Linked DNA regions of Homo sapiens: region 1 is linked to region 2. The links come from fine-mapping of genetic effects on gene expression. A gene starts in region 2. The other region holds a variant in brackets. All regions are shown on one strand. Distances are between the middles of the regions. Region 1 overlaps ZNF550 (zinc finger protein 550). Region 2 holds the start of ZIK1 (zinc finger protein interacting with K protein 1).

Region 1 (5,377 bases), 40 kb before region 2:
CTAGCCATTCAGCTGCAAGGTACATTTCTCATGTATGGCCATAAGTTTATTTAGAACATAATACTGATGACCTTATTTTTAAGGTTGAATCAAGCTGGTGGTGATATATTTCATAGCAGGAAAATGGAGGAAATACATGTCCATAATCAGAGGATTTGAATCAAGGATGAAAGCTTCATGATGTAAAATATTACATGGCAGTTAAAAACAATTGGCTAGAGGTAAGCCCATGAAATATAGGATAGAAATATAATATTTTGCTGTAGTTTGAGTGAAAAAGAAAAAAAAAGAATTGTGAGGTCTACAATAAAACATAATTTAAAAATAATTTAATACCACAAAAACTCCAAAGAAAAAAAACCAAAACAACCCAGACACTTCTTACTAGAACATATGTTCCATGCTTCTATCTCGGCTTCTGGTAGCCCCGTGTGTTCCTTGGCTTGAAGATGTTCTTCCTGTGTCTTCACATCGTCTTCCCTCTGTACATCTGCCTCTGTGACCAAATTTCCCATTTTTCTAAGGACACAGTCATAGTCAATTAGGAACTAACCTAATGGATTAACTAACATGATTACCTGAGGTTCTGAGGGTAACGACTCCAACATCTTTTTTGGAGACACAAACACTTAACATTGCCCTATGAATTTCTGCAGTTCTTCAAAGGGCAGAGTGAATAATAACCACAGCAATTTCAAGACACACAGGCTTCCATTGTGAGATGGCTTGTTTAAAGAAACTATTAATTCCCTACACTCTTCTGATCACTCTGTTGTTCACATTCATTTTAGGATTTCTCTTCCAAATCACTTCTGGTGCTTTCCTTCTTGCTTCTTTCATTTCCTTCGGTGTTGTAGTTCTATTATGTTTTTATTCCGTCAGCAATTTCTTAAATTTCTCTTTTCAACCTTAAGCAGTTTTTCTGAAATTATAAAATTTACTGTGAACATTTCAAACATTTCCACATGTGCATGAAGTTAAAGTGAACTCTGACATTCCCCTCTACCCCATCCCTTCCCTCCCTCTACACCCAAGGAGCAAATACCATTTAACTGGGTGAGGATCCTTCCAGACACATTTTTTGTCTGCTTACAAATATTAAGATTTCTAATTCGTCTTTGCATGACCGACTTGCCGAGTTAATTTACCGTCCACATTTCCTCTGTGACATTTACTGATTGAAGTGCACCAACTGTGAATGGTCATAACTAGTCCCACCCCCACAATCATTTCTCACAGATTAAGCAGCATAAGAGCATAGTGCTTTTTATCTAATTTGTTCATTAAATGTAACAAAGTTACAAAAACATGAACATGAAAACGTTTTACCTCTGCCGGGCACGGTGGCTCACGCCTGTAATCGCAGCACTTTGGGAGGCAGAGGCGGGTGGACTACATGAGGTCAAGAGTTCAAGACCAGCCTGGCCAACATGGTGAAACCCCGTCTCTACTAAAAATACAAAAAAACTAGCCGGGCATGGTGGTGGGCGCCTGTAATCCCAGCTACTCGGGAGGCTGAGGCAGGAGAATCCCTTGAACTCGGGAGGCAGAAGTTGCAGTGAGCTGAGATGGCGCCACTGCACTCCAGCCTGGGCAACAAGAGTGAAACTCTGTCTCAAAAACAAAACAAAAAACATGTTTTACCTCAATCATAAACTGTGGAAAACATACAGAAGTTCACAACTTTTACTGTAAGTTCAAAACTTCTACTGACTTAAAAACGGGTGCTAAACAAGTTTAAGTCAATATATTGCACCTGTTCTCATGTGTTTTTCCTATATTAGACAGTAAGTTCCTTCCCTGCTCAAGGGCAGGACCCATAGCCCAGCCATCCACTGCATCCCACTCTTCTAAGTATGACCACAACAGTGAGTGGCCATGGAGCTAAATGACAGGTGTCTCATGAGATTCTTGCCTATCACAGCAGCAAGTTCATAGTAGATCCTTGTACCAAACACTTCAGTGAAGACTGTATGGAAAGAGCTGGAAGCTAAGAAAAACCTAGGGTGTCCTTTATCCCATGGAAAACACTCCTGCTTTGGGACAAACTGGGGCCTAGGTCCTCAGGCCTGGAAAGAACCCTTTGATGACAGCCAATATGTTTCTAGAGGGGTTTCTCCAACTCTCTTGAACCCAGGGCCTTAGGTACAAGTACAGCCACAGCTACAATACATGCAGCCTTCCAGAGAGAGGATGCAGGAGGGTGGGGGTCCTCAAGAGTCAACTCTCCTTCCCACAGGAGAGGAAACTGTGCACTCTGTCCTGAAAAAACAAAAACAGAGAACTCTTAACTCACCAAGAATTCTATTTATAATATGTGCAAAAGGACCACAGTAAAAGGTACATGCCCACTATGAAAACATGAATATATATGCAGTGCTTTAAAAGGTTGTGAGGAAAGCTCAAAGTGAGAAAATGATAATTTTCTATTTTTCACACGTTTTAACCTAACATTATCTCATGTAGCTTGAAAACTAAAAGAAAATCTCACAAAAGGAATTTCAAATTACCAGATTCAGGCTAAGTACAGTGGCTCACACCTGTAATCCCAGCTTTTTGGCAGGCTGAGGTGGGTGGATCACCTGAGGTCAGGAGTTCGAGACCAGCCTGGGCAACATGGCAAAACCCTGTCTCTACTAAAAATACAAAAATTAGCTGGGCATGGTAGTACATGCCTGTAATCCCAGCTTCTTGGGAGGCTGAGGCAGGAGAATCGCTTGAACCCGGGAGGCAGAGGTTGCAATGAGCCAAGATCGCACTCCTGCACTCCAGCCTAGGCAGCGGAGTGAGACTCCATCTCAAAACACAACAAAACTAATTACCATATTCAGTGCTAGCACCAAGGGACTAAGGTCATGGTGGTTAACTATGAAACTCACGTAAACCTGCCCACGTATATCCTGATTCACCTGTTAAAATGCTAGGCACTTTATTTTGTAGCAAAACTTCACGCAAATGTTTATAAGATCAGACAATGAGATTCCTCTCCATGTTGTTTTCTTGGGTTTACTGGGTTTACCATGGATTCATCTTAGTTGTGTGTTTTATTTTGCCTGTTTTAGCTATAATTCAATCCCTAGAAAAATGCTGAGGGGGACCTAAAAATACCCCTCTACACAGGATTAAAGAATCTGATAAACACCAGAAAGAATTAGGACTCATCTGAGAAGGCCAAGCAAGTACAAAGTGATCACTATGTTGCCAGAGAAAATAAAGACAACAAACAGACAGAATGGAATCAGGAAAATGTGAGAGTGCTGAGCATTTGAAACCATATTAGGCTAGGTGTGGTGGCTCACACCTGTAATCCCAACACTTTAGGAGGCTAAGCA[GGAT/G]GATGACTTGAGTCTAGCAGTTTGAGACAAATCTGGGGAACACAGCAAGACCTCATCTATACAAAAAAATTTAAGGCTGGGTGCAGTGACTCACACCTGTAATCCCAGAACTTTGGGAGGCCAAGGCAGGTGGACCACTTGAAGCCAGGAGTTCCAGACCAGCCCAGCCAACATGGTAAAACCTTGTCTCTACTAAAATTACAAACATTAGCCAGGCGTAGTGGTGTATGCCTGTATCCCAAGCTACTCAGAAACTTGAGGCAAGAGGACCATTTGAGCCCAGGAGTTCGAGGTTACAGGGAACTATGATCATGCCACTGCACTCTAGCCTGGGTGACAGAGCAAGTCCCTGTCTCTTAAAAAATAATGAGTTTATTAATAAAAATCAAAGCCTTAAACAGTCTTAGGTATTGCACATTTTAATGTGGTGCACATTTTAATGTGGCCATCTGTACATGGGTTCTTCTCACCCTAGATATAAAAAAGAAGTGTCACATGAAGATGTTCTCAGTATTCTAATTTCTACTAAATTCAAGAATCTCATGACACAAGCCTTCATATTTCTCACAAAGAATTACTCTCCTCATGGATATCCTCCCAGAGATGTCTGGATCAAAGGCAACTTCCAAGAAATGCCTGAAGAGCTGCCCTCACTGTCTAACTCTGACAAAGGATGGCAGTGAATGTATGTTAAAAAAAAAAAAAAGGAATAAAACCCCTTTACCTCTCAAACATTCCCCTACCAAAAAATAAAACTGATCTTACAGGGAAGTCTGTAAGGACATAAAGCAAGAAGATACCTGTAACTGAAGGTTTTCATAAGTTCATAGAGAAAATCCCAAGGTGGGTCAAATTCCAGCATGGCTCTTTATAGGACAAGCAAGTGACAACCTGGTCACAAAGTTTTCTCACATCAATAACAATTATGTAGTAACTTTTCATTATGATTCTCAGATAGTAAGATTTCTGCTCTGGCCAAAGACTGTCCTTAATAGTTATATTTGGAATGTCTTTCTCCAGCATGAGTTCTCTGATGTTGATGGAATGCCTTCCACATTTCCCCCTGGTATGAATCCTTCTGCAATGAGTGAGAACTGAGTGGTGACTGAAGGGATCCTTACATTCACTGTATTCACAGGGCTTCTCTCCAAAGTGACTGCTCATGTGTTAGTTAAGAAAGAGCTGACAAAAAAAATGAAAAGTTTCCTGACATTCTTTGCATTCGAAGGACTTCTTCCTACAGTGTGGGTCCCATTATGAATGATAAAATAACAGTGGGTAAAGGCCTTGCTGTATTCATTGCAGCAATAGGGTTCTCTCATGTATGGACCCTTTGGTGCTGCAGAAGGTGTGACCTGCGTTTGAAGGCCTTCCCACACTCGATACACTTGTAGGGCATCTCCCCAGTGTGGATGACAGAGTGCTGAATGAGGTACGTGCTCCGGTGAAAGGCTTTCCCACACTGGGTGCATTCATAGGGCTTCTCCCCAGTGTGAATCCGCTGGTGCTGTATGAGTTCTGAGCTGCATCTGAAGGCCTTTCCACATGCCATGCAATCATAGGGCTTCTCTCCAGTGTGGATGATGTAATGTTGAATTAGGTGGGCTCTATTGCTAAAGGCTTTCTCACATTCTTTGCACTCAAAGGGCTTTTCTCCAGTGTGGGTCCTATTATGGCGAATAAAAGTAGACCGGTGGGTGAAGGCCTTTCGACATTGACTACACTCATAGGGTTTCTCTCCAGTGTGGATTGGATGGTGCTGCATGAGGTACGACCTGCGTTTGAAGGCCTTCCCACACTCAAGGCACTTGTATGGTTTCTCCCCGGTGTGGATGAGGTAGTGCCGAATGAGAGTTGAGCTCTGGCTAAAGGCTTTCCCACATGCATTGCATTCATAGGGTTTCATTCCAGTGTGAACCCTCTGATGTCGAACGAGATACCACTTCCTGTTAAAACCTTTCCCACACTGCTTGCATTTGTAGGGGTTTGTCCCTGCATGAATCAAGGCGTCTTTCCCTGGTTGCTGTGAGTCACATTCATGG
Region 2 (5,377 bases):
GCAGGTTTTCCGAACTAGGCTATCCCTCCTCCCCAAGTTATCCAGGCAATTCCGCTAGTTCTATGCCTAGATGGACACACATGCTTGAAGTTTGGGGAGCCATGTTTGATGTGATGTGGCAACTCTGAAAGGACAGTGAGGGTGAGGGCAGGTGTTAGGTGGCCATTGTGGGGGCTGCTGGCCTCTGGGACCAGAGGGTAATGAGGTGCACAACCGTGTCACCTAGAGGGTGCCAGTGTTAATAAGGAAAAGGGTTGCTGTCCGACGCACACAGAAGCCAATGCCATGGCACCAGGTTTTTGAGAAAAGCAAACCTTTATTGCAAGTCGACAAACAAGAAGACAGGAGTCCAGCTCAAATCTGTCTCCCCAATATGGGGTTTGGGGCAGCTTTTAAGGATTAGGAAGGACAGGTTGGTAAGCACTGGAAGGGTGGATTTTGATTGGAAGGACTTCAAACAAATCTATTGATGGCAAGGCGGGGATGGGGTTGTTATCACCCAACATTCAGAGACAACAGACCCCTTGCTTTCGGAAGTGTTTCAGCACTTGGGTTCCAGCCATAGCCTGATATTTTGGTTTCCTGTGGTGACAGGGTGGAGTCTGGTAGGTGAGACTTCAGCTCCGAGTGTTGGGTCAATGTTTTCTTTTCTCTTTTCTTTTTATTTATTTATTTATTTACTTATTTATTTATTGAGACAGGGTCTGGCTCCGTTGCCCAGGCTGGAGTGCAGTGGCATAATCATAACTCACTGTAACCGTGATCTCCTGGGCTCAAGCGATACTCCCACCTCAGCATCCTGAGTAGCTAGGATTACAGGTGCACCACCATACTCGGGTAATTTTTTAGTTTTTGTAGAGACGGGGTCTGGCTATGTTGCCCAAGTGGTCCTTCCACCTCAGCCTCCCAATGTGCTTGGATTACAGGTGTGAGCCACCGCGCTGGGCCTGACATTTTCTTTTCTGCACATTCTCTAGCTGTGTAACTTGCAACTCTTTAGCTCTGTGCCTGCAAAATAACTGGACATTATGTTACCAACAGAGGATGGCCAGATGAGACTGGTCCAGTGGTTAAACCTGCACCTTCATGGAGGCCATTATGAGTATCCCTACAGGCCGAGTCTCAGGGTGCCCCCAGAAGCCCATACCAGCCGCTGTAAGGCAGAGCATGGACTTCCCCTCGGGGACTAAATCCCATTCTTGGGCTCCAGAGGCCTTGTTCCTACCACTGTACGCCACCGCTTGGGGTGCCCTGGGAACCCGCCTACCTCCCTACTGCCCTGAGGGCGGTTGGAGATGGTCCCAGCAGGTGTGGGAGATGAGGTAGGAGACGTCTTCAACGGGGTCCAAGGCTCATCTGGACCCAGTTCTCAGCCGAGGGGCGGTGGAGAGGGCGTCAGAAAACGCAGGAACGGCTCCTAGACCCAGGAGGGGACTCAGGGAAGCAGAGGCGCTTTCCTCGGCGGCTCTGGGGCCTTCCCAGCTCGCCCGGCCCCCCTGGAGGAGACGTCCCCCGGGGTGGAGCTACGGAGAACCCCTTCCCATGGGACGTCTCGGCCCCGCCTCCCGCCTCTGGGTACAGTCAAAGGGCTCAGGTCAGAGCAGGAGCAGCCGGGGGCGCGGCCCCCACGTGGCCTCCCGGGACACGTGCCCACAGCGCGACACCTAAGTCGCTCCTTTCACAGAATAGCCTTGGCCCCGGCACGGCCTCGAACGCCTTGACCCCGCAAGGGAGGGGCACGAGGCTCCTTTGCTCCCGCAGGAGCGTCGAATACGTATGGAATACGCGTCGGTGTGGATCTGGCCTCAGCTTCCTGAGCCTGAATCAATGCTTCTAATCACGTGGGCGCTCAGCCGCGACGGGACCACAGAAATCGACCAGCGGCCTGTTTAAGGAGCGACAAGGCCCAGCCCTCTCCTGCATTGTGGCGACGCCATTTCCCTGCGCCCCCAGCGCGGCCGCTTGGCTTTTGTTTGAGGTGACGCTGGGCGGCAGCATCCTTCCCTCAGCCCTGGGGACCAGCGGGGACTACAGAACCCAGAAGGTTTTGTCTCCAGCCGCAGGGATGCTGAGCCAATCCGCGCTGAGAAAAGGGTCGTTTCCGCTTTGGGACCAATGGGTCGGGGAGGGACTTCCGGTATCACTTCAGTGGCGGTCATTTTTGCAGCGCTTGGGTGCATCCAGACCGTCAGAGCTTTGGGAGCGCTTTGTTTGGCGACAGTCGGAAGGCGCGAGGGGAGGGGTCCTCCCGCTGAACAGTGGGGGTTCTAAGGGTCGGCGGCGGCGGGGTTGACGGCTTTGCCTAGGTCCCTCCGCCCGTAGCTGTCGGGTCCCGGCCCCGCTCTGCCCACAGACTCCGATGGCTGCGGCCGCGCTGAGGGCCCCGACTCAGGTGAGCGCTGCCTCTACTGGGCCTCACCCTCCATCCCCAAATTAGTGCCTTCTTGGGTCACTACGGTCGAGATCCTCATGTCCAGTACAGTGGGGGCTCGTGGGTGGGGTCCCTATTTCCAGAACTTGGGTGATGGGGCACGGAAGAGGGTTACAGGCAAAGGGACCAGCGTTTCTAAACTCTTGGAGACACAGTGAAGAAGGTTCATACCTGGAGTGCCAAGGTGAGGAGTTTTCCCTCAATTCTTAGGATGCTAGGAGCCGTGGAGGGTTGTGTACAGAAGCGGCATATGGTCTGAGTTAGGTCTTTCGAAGTTTTCCAAAAACCTCATGGAGTTAGACTAGAATAGAATGGAATAACACAGAGGCACAGGGAGGTTGAGTTCTTGTGCAAGGTCCCACAGTTGCTAAGAGTTGGCACTGAGGACTGGAACGCTGAGGCTCAGAAATAATGCAGGCATCCTCAGTCCACCTGGCTCTGGCCTGGACAGGAATCCAGGGAAGCCTGAATCCGTAGAGCCCTGTATGGTCACCTGCCTTTCATGATCTTTGGCTTTCCACAGGTTACTGTGTCTCCAGAAACACATATGGACCTCACAAAGGTGAGTGGAGGGTGTCCCAGGCCCTCACTGGTCCTGGCCCCATCCTGGGGTTTTTTCATGGATCTTTTTGCCACCATCCAGTTCTTTGACCTAAGGACTCTTCACAAACTGGAAGCTTGACATCCTGATTCTAGACTGGTGGTTATTTGTAGACGTTCTTATTGCTGGCAGACAATGGAATGAGGTGTGAAAGGTTGCCCCGCCTACGTACAATAATGTGTAAGGTTGGCAGTGAAGCTGAGCTGATTCAGGGAAACACAACTCTCCTTTCTTTCTCATGGGAACTCAGAGCAGCAGGGCAGGACTCAGGCCTGGAATGGCTCTGAGAAATTGGGTGTTTTTTCTGGAGGTGATGAGAACAATGGGAGGTTTAGAGAAGAGAACGGAGGTTATCTGACACTGGTCTCATCAGGTTCACTGTTAATGCAGCATAGAGAATACTCTGTGGGTGTGATGGAGGCGATAGAAAGACCAGGGAGGAGGCTACTGCAGTGGCCAAGGTGAGTTTTGATAGTGGCTTCACCAGTGTGGTGGCTGTGAAGGTAGAAGAAGTGGCTGGATTCTGGGTCAGAATTTTAATTAGGCCTGCTTGCATTTTCAGATTTTGAGGGTAAGAGATACTGGTCAAGCATTACTCCAGGCATTTTGAATTTAGCATCTGGAAGGATGGAATCTCCATCAAATAGCATGTTATAGGATTGATTTTATTTTTATTTTATTTATTTATTTGTCTATTTTTAGACAGTCTCACTCTGTCACTCAGGCTGGAGTGCAGTGGCTCGATCTTGGCTCTTTGCAACCTCCACCTCCCGGGTTCAAGCAATCCTCCTGCCTCAGCCTCCTGAGTAGTTGGGACTACAGGCACATGCTACCGTGCTACCATGCCCAGCGAATTTTTTTTTTTTTTTTTTTTTGTATCTTTAGTAGAGACAGGGTTTCACCATGTTGGCCAGGCTGGTCTCAAACTCCTGACCTCAGGTGATCCACCTGTCTTGGCCTCCCAAAGTGCTGGGATTACAGGCGTGAGCCACCATGCCCAGCCAATTAATTTTCATTAAGGATAACAGGAGTTTTGTCTTTAGCTATTATCATAGTCTGAGATATTCCAAAGAATGATATATGGAGACATCAGGTGAGTAGCTGTCCATGTACATCTAGAATTCTGGAAGTGGTTTAAGATGGAGAAATCCAAAAGGTGGTGGCCAGTGTTTGGCCCAGAGTAGCTATGGGTCACAATTAGGAGTGGGTAATCCTGGTCTTGAAGATAATGCTATTTATAATGCAGGAAAGGGCTGGGTGTGGTGGCTCACACCTGTAATCCCAGCACTTTGGGCGGCCGAGGCAGGCGGATCACTTGAGGTCAGGAGTTCTAGACCAGCTTGGCCAACATGGTGAAACTCCGTCTCCACTAAAAATACAAAAATTAGCCAGGCGTGGTGGCAGGCACCTGTAATCCCAGCTACTAGGGAGGCTGAGGCAGGAGAATTGCTTGAGCCCAGGAGGCGGAGGTTGCAGTGAGCCAAGATCACGCCACTGCACTCCAGCCTGGGTGACAGAGTGAGACTCCATCTCAAAAACAAAACAAAAAAACAGAAAAGGGAAGGTTGGGGCTATGACTGTGTCTCATGCTTGGACACGTGGTAGAGGTGGTGAGCATCACAAACAGTTGTGAGAGAAAAGTGGTCATGGGAAGATTGTAGGAAAGAGGATGATCTGGTGTATCAGTCCATTTTCACACTGCTGATAAAGACAGCAAGTCTCTAGGAAGTTCCAGACTTTCCCATATTTTCCTGTCTTCTTCTGAGCCCTCCAAACTGTTCCAACCTCTGCCTGTTCCCCAATTCCAAAATTGCTTCCACATTTTCAGTTATCTTTACAGCACAGCCCCACTTTACTCATACTGATTTACTGTATTAGTCCATTTTCATGCTGCTGATAAAGATGTGCTGGAGACTAGATAATTTGTAAGGAAAAAGAGGTTTAATGGACTCATGATTCCGCGTGGCTGGGGAGGCCTCACAATCATGGTGGAGGGTGAAAGGCATGTCTTGCATGGCAGCAGACAAGAGAGAACTTGTTCAGGGGAACTCCCCCCTTATAAAACCATCAAATCTTGTGAGACTTATTTACTATCATGAGAACAGCATGGGAAAGGCCTGCCCCTATGGTTCGATTACCTCTCACCAGGTCCCTCCCATGACATGGGAATTGTGGGAACTACAATTCAAGAAGAGATTTGGGTGGGGACGCAGCCAAATCATATCATCTGATAAGTGGTCAAGGCTTCCAAGGCATTAGGGACATAAGACAGACATGGAGATAAAGAAATAATTGGTAGAAGATGACACTGAGGCCAGGTACAGTGGACTGTGTCCCCGCAAAAT

The links. PIP is the estimated chance that this variant, and not a neighbour inherited with it, causes the effect.
Region 1: its variant is fine-mapped to the expression of ZIK1 in blood mononuclear cells (TOPMed, PIP 0.99).

Annotation. Positions count from the first base shown.
Region 1 is chr19:57,542,322-57,547,698 of GRCh38, forward strand. It overlaps ZNF550 (zinc finger protein 550), which reads right to left. Exons shown (of 4, transcript NM_001397372.1): 4 at 1-5,377. The coding sequence ends at 4,654. Among named protein-coding and RNA genes, the nearest start is that of ZNF550, 15 kb to the right of the region's middle. The variant GGAT/G (reference allele first, on the strand shown) is at 3,333.
Region 2 is chr19:57,581,998-57,587,374 of GRCh38, forward strand. ZIK1 (zinc finger protein interacting with K protein 1) reads left to right here and starts at 2,148. Exons shown (of 4, transcript NM_001010879.4): 1 at 2,148-2,392; 2 at 2,955-2,993. The coding sequence starts at 2,360. RefSeq lists enhancers at 1,657-2,188, 1,885-1,984.